Homo sapiens: one gene and its partners. The protein of the gene in region 1 binds, or shares a complex with, the protein of each later gene. Each region holds a gene or a part of one and is shown on either strand. Other genes may lie near its edges. The genes, in order: TAF11, TAF13 and TAF8.

Region 1 (4,084 bases):
CCGGGCAACGCACCCCCCAAACCGGCTGGGGACACCACCCCCTCCCTGCCTTTTCCCCACGAGCGCGTCACTTCCGGGATCCGGCGTCACGCGTCACCGCGCCCCCGCGCCCCGCCCCCTAGCTCACCTAGCTGGGCGGGGCTCCGCGGACCAGCGCAGGTGGACTTTGCTGTGCCGAGACACGCCTCTCGGGGCATGGGGACAGCGCCTTGTGGGCCCCCATTATGCAGGTGGAAAGGGACAAACAGGCCCACCTGTACGCGCCTCCCGAAGTGCGCTCCTTCCCCAAAGGTTTTGGGAGCTCCTGGGACAGGAAATACGGTAATTCGTCCAGGCAGCGTAGAAACAAAGAGATAAATGTAACGCGCACCTACATTTCCAAGTCCATTCTTTCAGCACGCATAAATTAAATATGTAATAGGTGCGGGGACCTAGTCATACCCAGGTGAATAAAACGCCCTCCCCCTCGTATCTCAATGAGGGAAGAGAAGAAAATTTTAAAACAGAAATATCCTCACCACTTCATCCTCCCAGTACGTGAACTAGTTCATTAAAGTGAAACGTTCAAAGGAGACACCTTCCTCTCTTTAGGCTTTCCTCTTAGTTTTAATGAGATTAACCAAACTGATAGAAAAGTGTCAGACTTGTAAAAACAAACCTCAATCTTCAGTACTGGCGAACTGAAAAAAATCATTTAATTGGGTAGAAACTATGTGTGTTTTGTTCCCTGGTACTAGCACTGTTTCTAAATCGAAGTAGGCAGTCAATAGTTGTGGATGAATAAATGAATTGGATAAATTCTGCTCGAGCTATATGACTTTTTGTTGTTAAGGTGCTTGCGGAATGGAGGGGAAATGCTAGCAATTCTATGTACACACAGGCCCGCGGTTTCGGGCCAGTTGAAATATACAAGGTTGAGTCCTTGCCTGAAAGTTTACCAGTCCCGGGGAGCCTCATTCCACGACACCGCCATACAACGGAACTGAGTTTTCTCCCAGTCCCCCAACTTTACTCTGAGGGGTTAACGAAGGGATTAACTGACATTGCATTTTTAGACAGGCGAAAAGGAAAAAGTTATTTAGTAAACAAAACTGCGCTCCTTCACAAGTGCTGGTTTCCTAGCGAGGAGGATCCATAGTCTGAGCTCTTTACGTCCAATTTTCCCGCTTCCCACTGTCGCCAAACCAAAGTTAAAATGAGTCCTCTAGTCCTCTACGCGCGCCTCAAAATGACCCCTCAGGAGAGCGGTAGGGGTGATGTCATCGCTGCGCGACGACAGGAAGTAAGATCCTGGCCTGTGCAGCTCGGGTTTCCGAGCTTCTGCCTCAGGCATCTCCGCGATCTCCTCTCCCCTCCAATCCTATCCGTGATGGACGATGCCCACGAGTCGCCCTCCGACAAAGGTGGAGAGACAGGGGAGTCGGATGAGACGGCCGCTGTGCCCGGGGACCCGGGGGCTACCGACACCGATGGAATCCCAGAGGAAACTGACGGAGACGCAGATGTGGACTTGAAAGAAGCTGCAGCGGAGGAAGGCGAGGTAGGAAGAGATGTACTGATGAGGCTGAAGGAATACCCAGAGATTGTGTTACTGGCTGCTCGCCGGGCTTCTGGTTAGTCCCTAACAAGTTACGAGAACTCGAACTCACCAGAATTCCCTCCAGATCGTTAATCTTGAGGGGGAAGAGAGGGGACGACCAAACAAAACTCCAGTGCTGGTTCGGTTCCAGAGGCTCAAGCACTGTTAATATTTTTAGTCTTGTCTTTAGGGATTAAAGCTACTTCTAAGGGAGTTATAATAGCCCGTTGGCTTTGGTGGTGAGGAAATTGGGATCCAATGTCACACTGAGACGTAGTGCAAGAGCTAAAACCCAGGATTCGTAGCACCCCTTTCACCGCAATATGGTTCCTCTTAGATGTTAAGACAACTTTTGTCTTTATAGGAAGGAGGGTCGATCAGACCTGTCAAAGGGAGATAGACTTTTATATCGAAAAGTCTATATCGATATAGACTTTTATATCGAACACGATTTAACCTGAGAGTCGCCCGGGCTGGAGAACAATGGCGCGATCTCTGGCCCACTGCAACCTGCGCCTCCTGGGTTCACGCGATTCTCCTGCTTCAGCCTCCCGAGTAGCTAGGATTACAGGCGCACACCACCATGCCCAGCTAATTTTTGTATTTTTAGTAGAGACGGGGTTTTACCATGTTGGCCAGGCTGGTCTGGAACTCCTGACCTCGTGATCCGCCCGCCTCGGCCTCCCAAAGTGCTAGGATTACAGGCGTGAGCCACCGCACCCGGTGATCAGGGACCCATCAATTGGGTCTGGTGTTTTTATGCTACAGAGAGTTCAGCAGTGTTGCCTAGCTGAGTATCGGTCAGGACCAGAAACTCATCGTTCTCAGGATTACATTTCTAGAAGTAGAATCTTGGGGTCTTACAGCTAGAAGGGATTTAAGAGATCGTGGGTGAACAGTAGATTAGATGGAAATAGCCTTTCAGAGCATAAAGTTGCATCAAAATGTATAAAGTACAAACTTTTAGAAAAAGAGAAAATTTGTCTGGGCGTAGTGGCTCACGCCTGTAATCCCAGCACTTTGGGAGGCCGAGGTGGGTGGATCGCCTGATGTCAGGAGTTTGAGACCAGCCTGGCCAACATGGCGAAACCCCGTCTCTACTAAAAATACAAAAATTAGCTGGGCATGGTGGCGGGCGCCTGTAATCCCGGCTACTTAGGAGGCTGAGGCACAAGAATCGCTTGAACCTGGGAGGCGGAGATTGCAGTGAGCCGAGATCGCACCACTGCACTCCAGCTTGGGTACCAGAGACTCCGTCTCGGAAAAAAAAAAAGAAAAGAAAAGAAAGAAAAAGGAAAAGAGAACATTTGACAAAAGTATTTTAAGGCAGGTTTTTTGTTTGTTTTTTGTTTTTTGTTTTTTGTTTTGAGACCGAGTCTCGCTCTGTTGCCCAGGCTGGAGTGTGCAGTGGCGTGATCTTGGCTCACTGCAAGCTCCTTTAAGGCAGTTTTTGTTTGTTGAGACAAGGTCTCACTCTGTCACCCAGCCTGGAGTGCAGTGGCACAGTCTCTGCCTCCTGGGCTCAAGCAATCCTCTTATCCCAGCCTCCCCAGTAACTGGGACTGCAGGCATGCTGCACCACGCTCATCTAAAGTTTTTGTTTTGTTTTGTTTCGTTTTTGAGACAGAGTCTCGCTCTGCCGCCCAGGCTGGAGTGCAATGGCGCAATCTCGGCTCACTGCAACCTCCGCCTCTCAGGCTCAAGCGATTCTCCTGCCTCAGCCTCCCCAGTAGCTGGGATTACAGACACGTGCCACCGCGCCCAGCTAATTTTTGTATTTTTAGTAGAGCTGAGGTTTCACAAGTTTCACAAGTTGCCCAGCCTGGTCTTGAACTCCTGACCTCATGATCCATCCGCCTCGGCCTCCCAAAGTGCTGGGATTATAGGCATGAGCCACCGCACCCGGCCAGCTAAAGGTTTTTTAAATATTGTTTTGGTAGAGACAAGGTCTTATTATGTTGCCCAGTCTGGTCTCCAACTCGTTGGGCTCAAGCAATCCTCCTGCCTCAGCTTCCCAAAGTGCTAAGATTACAGGTGGCAGCCACCATGCCTGGCCAAGAAGGAAACTTTAAAACAGGTGTCAAGGACAGCAAGGATTTGAATAATTAGCTTAGTACACAGAGGGCTCACTACATATCTAAATTTGCACCGAACAGAGGATAAAATTATGTTGTTTCTGAAACACTTTTAAAAATCGATCATGTACCAGACCACAAAGAAAAATATGAACTCTTAAAAGTAGAAATCATAACAGGCCACATCTTGTTAATGTAATGCATTAAACTTGAAATTAACTACAAAAAGCTTCTCCCCCACCAAAAAAGAACTAACCCCCTGGAAATTTTAAACTATTTTTTAAATAGCCTTTAGACTAAAGAAATTAATAGAACACTTTATCAAAGTATATGGGATTTGGCCAAAGCTTTATTTAAAGAAAAATATATAGCCTTACATATTTTTATTAACAGCCAGAAGATATTGCAAATAAGCACCTAACTCAAGAAA
Region 2 (3,724 bases), on another chromosome or scaffold:
AGAAAAAAAAACTGTGCCTCTATTGAATATGTATAGACTTTTTTCCTTGTCACTATTCCCTAAACAGTATAGTATAACAACTATTTACATAGCATTTACATTGTATTAGGTATTGTAAGTAACCTAGAGATGATTTAAAATATACATAGGATGTATTTAGCTTATATGCAAATACTATGCCATTTTATATCTGGGATTTGAGCATCTGCAGATTTTGGTATCCACGGGAGGTCCTGGAACCAAGCTCCCAAGGATACTAAGGGACAACTGTATACATGTGCGCACACACACACACACACACTCACACACTTGTAATCACTACTAAGATCAAGATACAGAACACTTCCAGCATTTGACAGCATTTCTTACCATTTACATATACCCCTTTGATAATCTGATAAAAGTTATAATTATTCCCAGAAAAATGCCCATGTACAGATAATGTATAAAATTTTTCCGTATGATTTCAGGGTAGTCTCAAGGACTTCTTTTTTTATTTTTTGAGGCAGAGTCTCCCTCTTTCGCCCAGGTTGGAATGCATTGGCATGATCTCAGCTCTCCGCAACCTCTGCCTCCTGGGTTCAAGCTATTCTCCTGCCTCAGCCTCCCAAATAGCTGGGATTACAGGTGCGTGCCACCACGCCCCCCTAATTTTTGTATTTTTAGTAGAGACGGGGTTTCACCATGTTGGTCAGGCTGGTCTCAAACTCCCGACCTCAGGTGATCCGCCCACCTTGGCCTCCCAAAGTGCTGGAATTATAGGCGTGAACCACCGCGCTGGCCTTCAAGGACTTCTTAAAGCTTGTCTCTGGACTGGGAGTTTATAGGCGATAGGATAAGAACCTCTGTGGATCTCAGCTGGGTGTGGTGGCTCACACCTGTAATCCTAGCACTTTGGGAGGCCAAGGCAGGAGGATTACTTGAGTCCAGGAGTTCAAGACCAGCCTGGGCAACAAGGTGGGACCCTGTCTCTACGAAAAAATAAAAATAAATAAATAGTTAGAAACCAGTTCAAAAACTGCCTAGGCAACATAGCAAGACCCCTGTCTCTAGAAAAAATTTTAAATGGCTGGGTGTGGTAGCTTAGGCCTGTAATCCCAATAATTTGGGAGGCCAAGGCAGGCAGATCACTTGAGGCCAGGAATTCAAGACTATCTGGGCAACGTGGCAAAACCCTGACTCTACTAAAAAATACAAAAAAATTAGCTGGGTGTGGTAGCGCATGGCTGTAATCCCAGCTACTTGGAGGCTAAAGTTTGAGAATCTCTTGAATCCGGGAGGTGGAGGTTGCAGTGAGTTGAGATCGTGCCATTGCACTCCACCCTGGGTGACACAGTGACACTTCTGTTTCAAAAAAAACCCCACATATTAGCCAGGCATAGTGGCATGTGTCTGTAGTCTCAGCTGCTCACGTGAGCCAGGGAGGTTGAGGCTGCAGCAAGCTGTACTGCAACACCACTCCAGCCTGGGCGACAGAGCCAAGACTGTCTCAAAAAAGGAGAGCAAAAAAAAGAATTCACACGGATCCTGTCTGCCCTAAACTACAACTACCAACAAGTGCGATGCTGTTGTGGGTATGAGTAAAGACGCGAACCAGATCAGCTGGGTTCAAACTCAGGTTCCATCTCTTACTAGCTTTGTGACCTTGGGTAAATCAGTTACTGCAGTGCTTTAATTTTCTCATCTATAGAATGGGGATAATCAATAGTTTCTACCTTAAAGGATCATTGTGAGGATTAAATGAGTTATATATGTAAAGGACTTAAGACAGTACCTGGCATATAATAAGGGCTATATATGTTTTATCTTTTGGCAGTTATTTTTATTTGTCTGTATTAGACTTCTCTCTTATTATTTTTGAGACACAGTCTCTCTTATTATTATTATTATTTTTGAGACACAGCCTCCCTCTGTCACCCAGGCTGGAGTGCAGTGGCGCATTCTCAGCTCACTGCAACCTCTGCCTCCTGGATTCAAGCGATTCTCATGCCTCAGCCTCCCGAGTAGCTGGGATTATAGGCATGTGCCAACACCCCCAGCTGACTTTTGTGTTTTTTTTTTTTTTTTAGTAGAAACAGGTTTTCACCTTGTTGGCCAGGCTGATCTCAAACTTCTGGCCTCAAGTGATCTGCCTCAGCCTCCTGAAGTGCTGGGATTACAGGCGTGAGCCACCATCCAGGCCTACGCCCAGCTAATTTTTGTTTTTTATGTAGAGACAGGGTTTCGCCATGTTGCCCAGGCTTGTCTCAAACTCCTGAGCTCAAGCAGTCTACTTGCCTGGGCCTCCCAAAGTGCTGGGTTTACAGGCGTGGGCCACTGCACCCGACCTAGACTTATCCTTTGCATTTCCTATGGTTTCTTCAGATGAAGCCTGAAAGGGCTTTGCTGCAGTTGTATTGATCTAGGAAATGTCAAAATTCCTTGTAGTAAGCCCTCTGCTTTCTCATTTTGAGTACCCTGTTTCTTCCTATAAGAACAGATTTGGGGCTGGGCGCGGTGGCTCACGCCTGTAATCCCAGCACTTTGGGAGGCTGAGGCACGCAGATCACCAGGTCAGATCATCGAGACCATCCTGGCTAACACAGTGAAACCCCTTCTCTACTAAAAATACAAAAAATTAGCCGGGCGTGGTGGTGGGTGCCTGTAGTCCCAGCTACTCGGGAGGCTGAGGCAGGAGAATGGTGTGAACCCAGGAGGCGATGGAGCTTGCAGTGAGCCAAGATGGTGCCACTGCACTCCAGCTTGGGCGACAGAGCGAGACTCTGTCTCAAGAAAAACAAACAAACAAACAAACAAAAAAAGTATTTGGAGAACTGTCTCTCATGTCTTTTCCCCTATGGTAATATCAGTAAAGAGTCTGCCGTTTTTCCAACGCCCCACTGCCATGCCCACACACAAAAACCACCTCCAAAAAAGGCTAAGCTGTTGCTGTCTGTCCTGTCCTTTGCCAGAGTTTCCTACTTAAAGGTGTTCTGCTGGGGGCAGGGACTGGTAAGTAGATGCTAGAGATTAGGAAAAGACTGTTTACCTTAGGGTTCAGTAGGTGGGAGGAAGGAAGAGTTTTGCTGGAGGCTACGTGGGAACAGTTGGTCATCAGACTGTTCTTAAACCTTTTACACAAGAATCCATACTTGGAGATAACAAATACGATGTAAATATGTTTTCATACCAATATTATCTATAACTTGGTTCATTTCTACTTTATTTTTTTAAAGTATCAAATTGTTAAATCTGTAAAAGTAAACAAAAGTAAGTGATTGTTCTTTTACAGTGCGATGTATGATGTATGGCTTTGGGGATGACCAGAATCCTTATACTGAGTCAGTGGATATTCTTGAAGATCTTGTCATAGAGTTTATCACTGAAATGGTAAGATTCTTTCCTAACTGGTCTTAGTTAATTGAAGAATAGATTTGAAATATTAAACTTTAGGTAAGACTAGAACTTATGGCATCCCTTTGAAATAAGCTATCCATTTGAGTGCTTGTTTGCAGAAGTTATTGGTTACTATTTATCATTGAGGATGGAGGTTATACATGTATATTCTATCCCCCCTTCTTCCTTTTGTTTTTTTTTTTTTTTGAGATGGAGTTTCGTTCTTGTTGCCCAGACTGGAGTGCAATGGCACGATCTTGGCTCACTGCAACCTCCGTCTCCCGGATTCAAGGGATTCTCCTGCCTCAGCCTCCGAGGAGCTGGGATTACAGGCATGCATCACCACACC
Region 3 (3,724 bases), 7.2 Mb from region 1:
AAAAACTCCCTCTCAACATAGCAGTGGAAGGTGCCATTTTCAATCCCCTCTTGTTATGATTAAGCTCACACTTAATGTCCCCAGCTCATTGTTCCTTTTTGTTATCCAAGGTCTCTGAAAAGAGAACCAGCAGCCCATGTAACCTGCGTAGCTCCTCAGCATGCTGTTTTACGTAGTTACTGTGGCCACAGCCACCCACCTCTACCTAAGAGGCTTGTGGGCAGATTGTTGTCAAAGGGAACGTCAACCAAGATTAGCCAGCAGGGCTGGGCATTGTAAGCCATCAAAGACCTTTTATCGATTGAAATACAAAATGCAACTTGTTTAGAAAATTGAGGTCTGGCATTTTTTTGAGAAAAGGAGGCTTTGGGGAGAGACCATAATCTGTAGAAATCAGGGTCTTGGGTGGAGGGGTAATCAGTTGTGACTCTGTTGCAGCTCCGGTGACCAATCAGCCAGTGACCCCCAAGGCCCTCACTGCAGGGCAGAACCGACCCCACCCGCCGCACATCCCCAGCCATTTTCCTGAGTTCCCTGATCCCCACACCTACATCAAAACTCCGGTGAGTGATGAAGCACTGGGACTGCGCGTGGTGTAAAGCACGGAGTCAGTTCCTACTGACTGTCACGTGGCAGAGTCCAGTCCAAAAGCTTGTTGATGAAAGAGTGGTTCAAAACTCAGAATGTGGCCGGGCACATTGGCTCACACCTGTAATCCCAGCATTTTAGGAGGCCGAGGCAGGAGGATCACTTGAGCCTGGGAGTTCAAGACCAGCCTGGGCAGCAGAGCAAGACCCTGTCTCATTTGAAAAATAAATAAATAAAGAAAAAAAAAAGAATTCAGATTATCTTTCATAATTGAGAAACAATTTGGCAAATGAGAATTATGTTCTCAAGTTTGCCAGCTAAAGTATAATTAACAAAGAAATTGAAGCTGGCCCCAGTATTGCCTGTCCTACTAAAACACAAAAGTACATAGCCGCATAGGAACAAGACTGAAAAGGTATTCCACTAAATGTTCATAGTAATTTTGGGTTGAGATTATAGGTCATTTTGTTTTGTGTTTACTTTTCTGAGTTTTCCAAATTTTCCATAATAGGAAAATTATTTTTTCAATTGGGGGAAAAGTTACTTTAAAAATATTTAGTAATGGCCGGGAGCAGTGGCTCATACCTTTAATCCCAACACTTTGGAAGGCCGAGGCAGATGGATCACCTGAGGTCAGGAATTCAAGACCAGCCTGGCCAACACAGTGAAACCCCATCTCTACTAAAATTACAAAAATTAGCTGTGCGTGGTGGCACATACCTGTAGTTCCAGCTACTCAGGAGGCTGAGGCAGGAGAATCTAACCTGGGAGACAGAGGTTGCAGTGAGCTGAGATTGCGCCACTGCACTCCAGCCTAGGCGACAGAGCAAGACTCTGTCTCAAAAAGAAATAAATAAAAATTAGTAATGATAATGAAATGGAACTTATCACTCTGAGCTCTAGGTCTGAATGAGGAGAAGATGAATTATCCTCTGTGGTTTGAATGTGTTCTAATTTGCCTGAATGGCAGTTTTACCTTCCGTTGGGAAGGTGCCCTCCCACACTTCCTTTGCTTCTGCCTGCATACCATATAGTGATGGCAAGCCCTCACGTCCTCTGGGCATTTTTCCATACCTTAGGGTGGGGGAGAGGGAATAGTAGCTGCCCAGCTAATGCAACATAGCCCTTGCCCTTGCCCTTGGTCAGATCTCTCTATTAGTTTCCTGGGCTGCTGTAACAAAATGCCACAAACCAGGTGACTTAGAACAACAGAAATTTATTGTCTCACAGTTCTGGAGGCTAGAAGTCTAAAAGCAAGGTGTCATGCTCCCTCTGAAACCTGTAGGGGAGTCCCTCCTTGCCTCTTCCTAGCTTCTGGTGGTTGGCCAGCATTCTTTGGCATTTCTTGGCTCATAGATGCATCACTCCAGCTTTCTGTCTTCACATGGCATTCTTTTTTGTGTGTGGTTGGGGGGCAGAGGGGGAGACTGGAGTTTTATTATTACTCAAATCAGTCTTCCCCAGCATTCGGGGAGCAGAGTTTTTAAGGATAATGTGGTAGGTCGGGGGAAGCCAGTGAGCCAGGAGTGCTGATTGGTCAGAGATGAAACCATAGGGACTCAGGGCCGGGCAAGGTGGCTCACGCCTGTAATCCCAGCACTTTGGGAGGCCGAGGTGGGGGGATCATGAGGTCAGGAGATCGAGACCATCCTGGCCAACATGGTGAAACCCCGTCTTTACTAAAAATACAAAAAATCAGCCGGGCATGGTGGCGGGCACCTGTAGTCCTAGCTACTTGGGAGGCTGAGGCAGGAGAATAGTGTGAACCCGGGAGGCAGAGCTTGCAGTGAGCCGTGATTGCACCATTGCACTCCAGCCTGGGCGACAGAGCGAGACTTTGTCTCAAGAAAAAAAAAAAAAAAGAAATCATAGGGACTCAGAGCTGTCTTCTTGCACTGAGTCAGTTCCTGGGTGGGGGCCACAAGATCAGATGAGCCAGTTTATTGATCTGGGTGGTGCCAGCTGATCCATCAAGTGCAAGGTGTCTCAACACTGATCTTAGGAACAGTATAGGGAGGGTCAGAATCTTGTAGCCTCCAGCTGCATGACTTCTAAACCATAATTTCCAATCTTGTGGCTAATGTTAGTCCTACAAAGGCAATCTAGTCTCCAGGCAAGATGGAGGTCTTCTTTGGGAAAAGGAGTGTCACTGTCTTTGTTTAAACTCTAAACTAAGTTTCTCCCAAAGTTAGTTTAGCCTCCGCCCAGGAATGAACAAGGACAGCTTGGAGGTTAGAAGCAAGATGGAGTCAGTTAAGTTAGATCTCTTTCACCGTCTCAGTCATAATTTTGCAAACGTGGTTTCAGTCCTTCCCTTTGGGTTTTATAACACCTTAATCTTAAGGTGTAGGCTGTGAAGATGGGAAAAGGCTATCAATTGCTCTGGCTTCTTCCTGCTGACAGGGCACATTATGGGAATGGGAGTGAACCCGAAGGTGAGAAGAGTGGAACTGGTTTGCAACTGTCTGAGTGTACTCATGCAGGCCTGGCTAGGCGTTCATGGCTTGCATGGCACAAACATTAGTACTCTGTAGTTTTACTACAGTGTTTAAGTGAAACAGCCCACTATAAGGTAAATAACGAGTCCTAGGATGAGGAGTACAATTCCCAATTTTAAAAGCAAAGATTTGGAAGCACTAGTTTGGGGACTTCTAACCCACAAAGACTTTAGAATTTAGTCTAAACTGCAGAAAAAACCTCAAGAACAGCTAACAACAGTGTACTATAGTTTTTCTTTTGAAGCATAATTTTTCTCTCTCCAGTCCCCATTTTTATTAAAAACAAATCATGATACAACTGATTTGTTTACAAAATAAACTTTAGTCTTACTGTACTTGGCCCGATTATTTGCATAAAGTGCAGCAAGAATAATTATTTTTCACTTAGACTTTTTAAATTGGCTTTGATAGAACTCTGTTCCATGAAGAATCTCAGATAAGACTTTTTAAAAGCCGAGCCCAGCCATGGGTTTGTACCCTCAAATACCTATGAGTTGGGCAAATTTGTCTCCTCTTGAGGTCCCAAGATAGCTTGGGGTTCCTGAGCCTGTTTGAAAGTGACATTCTTTACTTACCACAGGTCAGGAACCTTGTACAGAGACTCTGTGTGGACGGGGTATAAGGCCAGATTCCCCAAC

The links.
Region 2: TAF11 (region 1) and TAF13 share a complex: the UniProt entries of both Homo sapiens proteins name them as parts of the TFIID basal transcription factor complex.
Region 3: TAF11 (region 1) and TAF8 share a complex: the UniProt entries of both Homo sapiens proteins name them as parts of the TFIID basal transcription factor complex.

The regions. Positions count from the first base shown.
Region 1 is NC_000006.12:34,885,243-34,889,326, reverse strand, and holds the start of TAF11 (transcription initiation factor TFIID subunit 11), read left to right. Parts: upstream 1-1,284; 5' UTR 1,285-1,369; coding exon 1,370-1,540; intron 1,541-3,295; exon of another isoform or gene 3,296-4,084. UniProt on the Homo sapiens protein: The TFIID basal transcription factor complex plays a major role in the initiation of RNA polymerase II (Pol II)-dependent transcription.
Region 2 is NC_000001.11:109,065,780-109,069,503, reverse strand, and holds part of TAF13 (transcription initiation factor TFIID subunit 13), read left to right. Parts: intron 1-3,271; coding exon 3,272-3,369; intron 3,370-3,724. UniProt on the Homo sapiens protein: The TFIID basal transcription factor complex plays a major role in the initiation of RNA polymerase II (Pol II)-dependent transcription.
Region 3 is NC_000006.12:42,056,951-42,060,674, forward strand, and holds part of TAF8 (transcription initiation factor TFIID subunit 8), read left to right. Parts: intron 1-438; coding exon 439-563; intron 564-3,724. UniProt on the Homo sapiens protein: The TFIID basal transcription factor complex plays a major role in the initiation of RNA polymerase II (Pol II)-dependent transcription.